Linked DNA regions of Homo sapiens. The protein of the gene in region 2 interacts with the protein of the main gene of each other region in a biochemical or structural test. Each region holds a gene or a part of one and is shown on either strand. Other genes may lie near its edges.

What was found.
Region 1: the proteins of CPSF1 (region 2) and CSTF3 form a complex in vitro, tested with the Homo sapiens proteins (one study listed by BioGRID).

The regions. Positions count from the first base shown.
Region 1 is NC_000011.10:33,095,168-33,098,982, forward strand, and holds part of CSTF3 (cleavage stimulation factor subunit 3), read right to left. Parts: intron 3,598-3,815; coding exon 3,523-3,597; intron 1,812-3,522; coding exon 1,668-1,811; intron 1,242-1,667; coding exon 1,139-1,241; intron 1-1,138. UniProt on the Homo sapiens protein: One of the multiple factors required for polyadenylation and 3'-end cleavage of mammalian pre-mRNAs.
Region 2 is NC_000008.11:144,399,033-144,402,847, reverse strand, and holds part of CPSF1 (cleavage and polyadenylation specificity factor subunit 1), read left to right. Parts: intron 1-733; exon of another isoform or gene 734-933; intron 934-1,174; coding exon 1,175-1,202; intron 1,203-1,284; coding exon 1,285-1,418; intron 1,419-1,556; coding exon 1,557-1,637; intron 1,638-1,772; coding exon 1,773-1,924; intron 1,925-2,030; coding exon 2,031-2,177; intron 2,178-2,354; coding exon 2,355-2,494; intron 2,495-2,502; exon of another isoform or gene 2,503-2,571; coding exon 2,572-2,682; exon of another isoform or gene 2,683-2,762; coding exon 2,763-2,856; intron 2,857-2,979; coding exon 2,980-3,067; intron 3,068-3,137; coding exon 3,138-3,260; intron 3,261-3,344; coding exon 3,345-3,396; intron 3,397-3,474; coding exon 3,475-3,572; intron 3,573-3,645; coding exon 3,646-3,720; intron 3,721-3,809; coding exon 3,810-3,815. UniProt on the Homo sapiens protein: Component of the cleavage and polyadenylation specificity factor (CPSF) complex that plays a key role in pre-mRNA 3'-end formation, recognizing the AAUAAA signal sequence and interacting with poly(A) polymerase and other factors to bring about cleavage and poly(A) addition.

The DNA.
Region 1 (3,815 bases), on a different chromosome or scaffold from region 2:
GGGATTACAGGCATAAGCCACCACGCCCGGCCTATTCATTTATTTTTAAATGTTTTTTAGAGACAGGGTCTTGCTCTGTCATCCAGGCTAGATGGAGTACAGTGGCGTGATCACAGCTCACTGTGACCTCCAATTCCTGGGCTCAAGTGATCCAAGTATCTGAGACTACAGGCATACGCCACCACACCTAGCTAAAAAACCAACTTTTATACTACATCTTTTTTTGTTAAGAAATTACATATTGTGCACTGTTGTTAACTAGACTAAATGATATACATATATGAATTATCTAGCACAGTGCCTGGTAGGAACTCAATAAAGGATGGCCAGTGTTATTCGTACAACAGAATAGGGAAATAAATACTAAAAACCGGCCGGGCGCGGTGGCTCACGCCTGTAATCCCAGCACTTTGGGAGGCCGAGGCGGGCGGATCACGAGGTCAGGAGATCGAGACCATCCTGGCTAACACGGTGAAACCCTGTCTCTACTAAAAATACAAAAAATTAGCCGGGCGAGGTGGCGGGCGCCTGTAGTCCCAGCTACTCCGGAGGCTGAGGCAGGAGAATGGCGTGAACCCCAGGGGGCGGAGCCTGCAGTGAGCCGAGATTGCGCCACTGCACTCCAGCCTGGGCGACAGCGAGACTCTGTCTCAAATAAATAAATAAATAAATAAATAAATAAATAAATACTAAAAACCAAAATGTTTCTTTTTGAATCTTTTCCCCAGTATCCTCAAAGTGTTTTACTTTACTATTTGGGCATCTTTTGAGTTTGAGTTTTGGTGGCTAGAGGGTTTTTTGTTTGTTTGTTTTCCTTCCAGGAAACAGGAGATGATCTGCCCAGAGTCATCAGAGATGAATATAAACAACTCTGTGTCTCCTGACTCTGACTCTGAAGCTTTATCCCACTACTGATGGTACTTTACTGAATAAAGACAGTTCTGCAGAGTCAAAAAACATCTACCATTGCTCAGTAAATATATTCATGGTTGATATACCACAAGTATTTCTTGAGTGCCTAACAAGTGCCTGTCTGCTATGTCAAAATTATAATACATTCAAGAAGGAAGAAATCTAGCAACATAATTCCACATGGTTTAATATTAAGTAATCATTATAGATTCTAGAATCAACCTACCATTGAGGTGAGAAAGATAGTCAATATAGGCCAGGACATACTCTGGAATGTCTCCATATTTTTTTAGCCCCAGCTCAAAAATCTTAAAGGCAACAGATTTGTCCTACAAGTAAAGAAAGTAAAGTACAGATTTCCATGAAATGTCAGATAAAAAACACTTGAAAGAATATTAAAATTATACCTACATATGACAAAATATGTAAGAATTAAAACAAATTAAAATCATGTTAAGTAAAAATTGCTGAGCTAGAAACTATTCAAAGGAGTTTAGTGATTAGAAATCACGAAATAGTGATTAATATAGTGATTAATAAAGCACAAATTAGAAATATAGTGATTAATGAAGCATAAATTAGCAAGTAGTTGGGGATTTGGATGATGCTCCATAAAATTTTACACAGATACACTTAGACTGCCTTTACAAAATGGAGCAATAAAAGCTTAATGACAGAAGCTAAAATCACCTTTCTTTTACGAACCTCAGATGAAGGAAGTTGTTTTATCTTTACACTTGTATTTCAGTATTTACCTTACTACAGTAATATTCCATGAGTGCTGCAGTAACATAGACATGGTGGCGGGTTCTGGTATCTTCTCTTGCTTTTTTAAATATCATTCTTCCAGATTTGATGCCTTCTGCTCTCCGTGCAAATTTCATATATTGGATATATACCTATGCAAAAGAAAGTATTTGTGTTCTATAAATTAGACAGTATGTTTCCTGCATAAGAAAGCAATCCTCAATACCCAATAAATTAGAAAGTAGGAATTTAGATAATATTCTATTTAAATCCACAAACTAATTTTTTTCTGGTATTAGAGATGCATGCAAATTAATTTATTTTTTTATTGAGACATAATTCACATAGCACAAAATTCACCCTTTACAATTCAGTGGTTTTAAATATATTCACAAGGTTGTGCAATCATCACCATTATCTAATTCTAGAATATGTAAATTAAAGTTTAAGAGTGAAAAGTGTGACACTACTAGAACATACTCCATTAATGAATGTCAATATCTAAAAAACTCAAGGGTTGGTTTAATACAAGCACGTCTTACAATACATGTTTTTTTTTTTGAGACGGAGTCTCGCTCTGTTGCCCAGGCTGGAGTGCAGTGGTGCGATCTTGGCTCACTGCAACCTCTGTCTCCTGGGGTCAAGCCATTCTCCTGCCTCAGGCTCCCAAGTAGCTGGGACTACAGGCACACGCCACCACACCCGGCTAATTTTTGTTTTTTAGTAGAGATGGGGTTTCACCATTTTAGCCAGGCTGGTCTCAATCTCCTGACCTCGTGATCTGCCTGCCTCGACCTCCCAAAGTGCTGGGATTACAGGTGTGAGCTACCGCGCCCAGCCTGCAATACATGTTTAACTTCACATTTTCTTGGTTTCTTTTTAAAAGCCCACTACTCTATTTTCCGAACAACATATAATAGAACTTCATGGATAAACTATGAGCCATTTTATACCTAGCACCTACAGAGTGTCCAGTACATCATGAGTATGCAGTTTTGTTTAGTGAACAAATGACTAATTAGTAGGGTCCTGGTTTGCCCAGTATTGATAATGTCTAGCTATATTACCCAGTTTTGATGGATGGATGGATGGACTATGAGTTCCTCAAGAAAAGGAATTTCATCTAGTTTGTCATTAATGTTGCTGGAGTCTAGCACAATGCATAGACTCTAGCAATATATTTGCCAGATATGTTTGTGGAATGAATTATAAGATGATGAATAAATGTAGGAATTATAGCAGTGGAATCCCAATATAAATCATTAACAAGAAAAAGTAGTGTAGCTATAATTGACTTGAGGCAGAGGTTCTAGAGACACACCCACAAGCCTGTCCCCTTCCTCTCCCAATGGGAGAGCATCACTGCACTTTTGCACTTGGGGCTTTGAAAACCACTATGATAGAGCAGGATTTAGCATAAAGTGAGTTTCAGTCTAATTTCTTCCCAGGATGTCGGTTTCTCCCGCCTCATTTAAAAAGAAATATCTATTAAGCAACAATTCTGTGGCATAAAGTGACTTCAAACCATGATCACAAAGAAAGTGTTAGAGAAAGTGCCTCTGTATCTATTTTATACTGCTGCATTAAAAAGAAAAAATTCTAGCAGAAAACAGATCAGTAATTGTCAGAGGTAAGGGCAGAGGGAAGGGTTATATCTACAAAGGGGTCACATGGGGGAATTTTTGGAGGATGGTGGAGGTGTTTTCTATCTTAATTGTGGTGGGGATCCCATACTCAATGTTATTTGTCAAGATTAATAGAACTATACAACAAAAACAGTGAATTTTATTGTATATAAATTTAAATTATTTTTTGTTAGATAAGACTGTAAAGGTGGAAAAAAAGATTTGTAAAGTTACTCACCAAGGTAGGGTCAATATCCTCAATTGCCAGAAGTCTGTTATATATACTGTGAACCTTTTCATACTTCATGCGACTCTAAGGTGGTACAGAAGAAGTGAGTATCAACATATGGTCATAAATAAGCAGGATTTGAGCTCCAAGGAATCCAAAGGCTATAACCTCCCACCCCCAATGGCATCTCCATTGAGCATAAATATAGTATAAGCTGACAACTAATAACTGTTCATTTGGCATCATCTCTGTCTACCAAAAGCAATATGCCTGGCAAACAAGCAGCCAGAAAAAAAGTTCAG
Region 2 (3,815 bases):
CCACCTGTCTGTGGGCTGTTGGGGTGGCCTGAGCCACCTGCGGTGCCGTCAGCCCCACATGAGTGGGTGTGTGTTTTTTTTTTAAGTGTGTCATTACTTCTGAAACCTTTGGTAGAATTTGCGGGTGAAGCCCTGGAGTTGCCCTTGTCGCTGTGAGATGGGTATTGGTTTGTGGATGCTTCTTCTGTATCTCTTAACCAGCTTCCAAGATGCCCTCCCCATAGCACAAGTCCATCGTGAAAAATGACCTTGAGGTGGCTCACGCCTGTAATCCCAGCACTTTGGGAGGCTAAGGTGGGCGGATCACCTGAGGTCAGGAGTTCGAGACCAGCCTGGCCAACATGGTGAAACCCTGTCTCTACTAAAAATACAAAAATTAGCCGGACATGGTGGCACGCACCTGTAATCCCAGCTACTTGGGAGGCTGAGGCAGAATCACTTGAACCCGGGAGGCAGAGGTTGCAGTGAGCCAAGATCACGCCACTGCACTTCAGCCTGGGTGACAGAGTGAGACTCCGTCTCAAAAACAAAAAACAAAAAACAAAAAAAAACAAAACAAAAACCACTTTTCCCTTGCCTTGAGGCAATGGCATATAAATCTGCTAGCTAGTTAAACTAGCTACCTAGTAGCAAAGAACACACAGCCTCTTATCATTCTGGGAGGGCAGTGAAAAGGGAGGAGATAGAGAGGCAGCCTGGGGGAGCCCGAGGCGTCAGGATAGCGCAGGGCTTCCTCTTCTCTAACAGGCACGCAGATCAGTAGCTACAGATACCCCTTGGCTCTGGCTTCCTGCCCTGTGACATTTGGACCCAGGGGCCGGGGCTGGGCTGCTGTAGGTGTGCAACCAGGCAGGTTTGGGGGTGTGCAGACACAGAGTGCACTCTAACCCTGAGTGCTTGCCGCACAGGGCCTGGCTGCTAGGGAGCCGTGAGGTAGGGGCTTCCTGGGGAGGGGCCTGTGCCAGGGCTGGGCCGTGGGCATGAGAGCGTGAATGGGGGTCGCTGTGGGGGGCTGTGCACAGCTGTCTCCAGAAGCCCTTCTCCCTGCTGCAGAGAGGGTTTGGGCAGAGCTCCCAGGAGGCAGGGGCCAGGCTTGGTGGTCTTTTCTCGTTCCCCGGATGAGGTGAGCTGCCAGATGTGGCCCCTCACTGCCCTGTCTTTCTCTCCCCTCCAGGCTCTGACCAAGAATGACAGGAGCACAGGTGAGTGTGGTGGGGCGGCCTGGGGCTGTGCGGGTGCCAGGCATGGCTGGGCCCTGACCCTGAGCCCTGGTGTCTCCCCTAGAGGGGAAGGCCCACCGGGAGAAGCTCGAGCTTGCTGCCTCCTTCTCCTTCTTTGGCAACGTCATGTCCATGGCCAGCGTGCAGCTGGCAGGAGCCAAGCGGGATGCCCTGCTCCTAAGCTTCAAGGATGCCAAGGTGAGTGGTAGGCTTGGTGGGGTAGGCCTGGCCAAGGCGTGGGAGTGGGTGCCAGGGCCTGGGTACAGCCGTTGGTTGCCGGGGGCGACACTGTCAGGACCGGCAGTCGGCAGCCACGGCTGTGCCCTCTGACCGCAGCTGTCTGTGGTGGAGTACGACCCGGGCACCCATGACCTGAAGACCCTGTCACTGCACTACTTTGAGGAGCCTGAGCTTCGGGTAGGGCCGCGCTCCCGCCCCCGCCCAGGCCCCGCCCAGCCACCCTCCCTCCCCCTGCAGCTGGGTTCTGTGGCCCCAAGTGTTTCCCTCGGGGTCTCCTATGCTGGGCCTGGCTGATGCCCCCTCTGCCCCCAGGACGGGTTTGTGCAGAATGTACACACGCCGCGAGTGCGGGTGGACCCCGACGGGCGCTGTGCAGCCATGCTTGTCTACGGCACGCGGCTGGTGGTCCTGCCCTTCCGCAGGGAGAGCCTGGCTGAGGAGCACGAGGGGCTCGTGGGTGAGGGGTGAGTGCCAGCTGAGGCAGGCTGTGGTGCTGGGGTGGGAGGCGCCAGAGCCCGAGCTCCCCTCCCCGCCTCCCCTCCTCTCCTGCTGAAGCCCCTGGCCCCCCAGGCAGAGGTCCAGCTTCCTGCCCAGCTACATCATCGACGTGCGGGCCCTAGACGAGAAGCTGCTCAACATCATCGACCTGCAGTTCCTGCATGGCTACTACGAGCCTACCCTCCTCATCCTGTTTGAGCCCAACCAGACCTGGCCTGGGTGAGCCCCCTAAGGAGGCCCCTCTGCACTGTGGGCCCCCTAGCTGCCTCTGCCTGGGGTGGGGCCCATGGGGTTTAGGGCGGGGCCTATGGGGTGTGGTGGGGCTTGCTCGGGAGGAGCTGGGCCTGGGTCTCTGCGGGGAGGCAAGGCCCTTGGCTGACCCACTGGCGTCCCCAGGCGCGTGGCCGTGCGGCAGGACACGTGCTCCATTGTGGCCATCTCACTGAACATCACGCAGAAGGTGCACCCCGTCATCTGGTCCCTCACCAGCCTGCCCTTTGACTGCACCCAGGCTCTGGCTGTGCCCAAGCCCATAGGTGTGTGTCCTGGGAGTGGATAGGGGAGTGTGTGGAGAGAGCACTGAGCCTGCCCACCAGCCTGTGTCCACCTCCAGGTGGGGTGGTGGTGTTTGCCGTCAACTCGCTGTTGTACCTGAACCAGAGCGTCCCCCCGTATGGCGTGGCTCTCAACAGCCTCACCACAGGAACCACGGCTTTCCCGCTTCGTGAGTGTGGGGTGGCTGGGGCGGGGGGGGCCCGGGGACGGCTTGGGCCTGCCTAGTCGGCCTGACCACCCACCCCACAGGCACCCAGGAGGGTGTGCGGATCACCCTGGACTGCGCCCAGGCCACCTTCATCTCCTACGACAAGATGGTCATCTCCCTCAAGGGCGGCGAGATGTGAGCCCCTCCCCCGCCCATGAACTCTGCCCACACCGCCCCCCACAAGTCCTGTAGGGTCCCCTGGCCCCCTTCACTCCCCCAGGGTCCCCATCCCCGACTCAGAATTCTCCCTGCCCCCAGCTACGTGCTGACCCTCATCACCGACGGCATGCGCAGTGTCCGAGCGTTCCACTTTGACAAGGCGGCCGCCAGCGTCCTCACCACCAGCGTGAGTTGGGACTAGGGGTTGGGTCTGGGTCCAGACCCGGCCCAGCCATCACACACCTGCCCTCCCTCAGATGGTCACCATGGAGCCCGGGTACCTGTTCCTGGGTTCTCGCCTGGGCAATTCCCTCCTCCTCAAGTACACGGAGAAGCTGCAGGAGCCCCCGGCCAGTGCTGTCCGTGAGGCTGCCGACAAGGTGGGTTTCCTGGGCCCATTGGGCCACCACCCTTCATGTGGGCACTGCTGTGGCATGCCACTCAGTGCCCCTCCTGCCTCACAGGAAGAGCCTCCCTCAAAGAAGAAGCGAGTGGATGCGACGGCCGGCTGGTCAGGTGAGGGCCGGTCCAGGGCTGGTCAGGAGCGGGGCCAGGTGACCCAGGGCTGCGCTCAAGTGGGCTCTCTGTGTGCAGCTGCGGGTAAGTCGGTGCCGCAGGATGAGGTGGACGAGATTGAAGTGTACGGCAGCGAGGCCCAGTCGGGAACACAGCTGGCCACCTACTCCTTTGAGGTGAGATTGAGGCAGCAGGGCCCCCGTCCCAGCCAGCGCCCCCAGCGGGCCCCTGACTCTTGCTGTGCCGCAGGTGTGTGACAGCATCCTGAACATTGGACCCTGTGCCAATGCCGCCGTGGGCGAGCCTGCCTTCCTCTCTGAAGAGGTGCCCAGGGTTGGGGTCGGGGCTGGGGGCAGGGGCTGGAGTGTGAGGGGGGGTGGGGGGCATAGTCCTCACCCCCGAGTCCTGTGCAGTTTCAG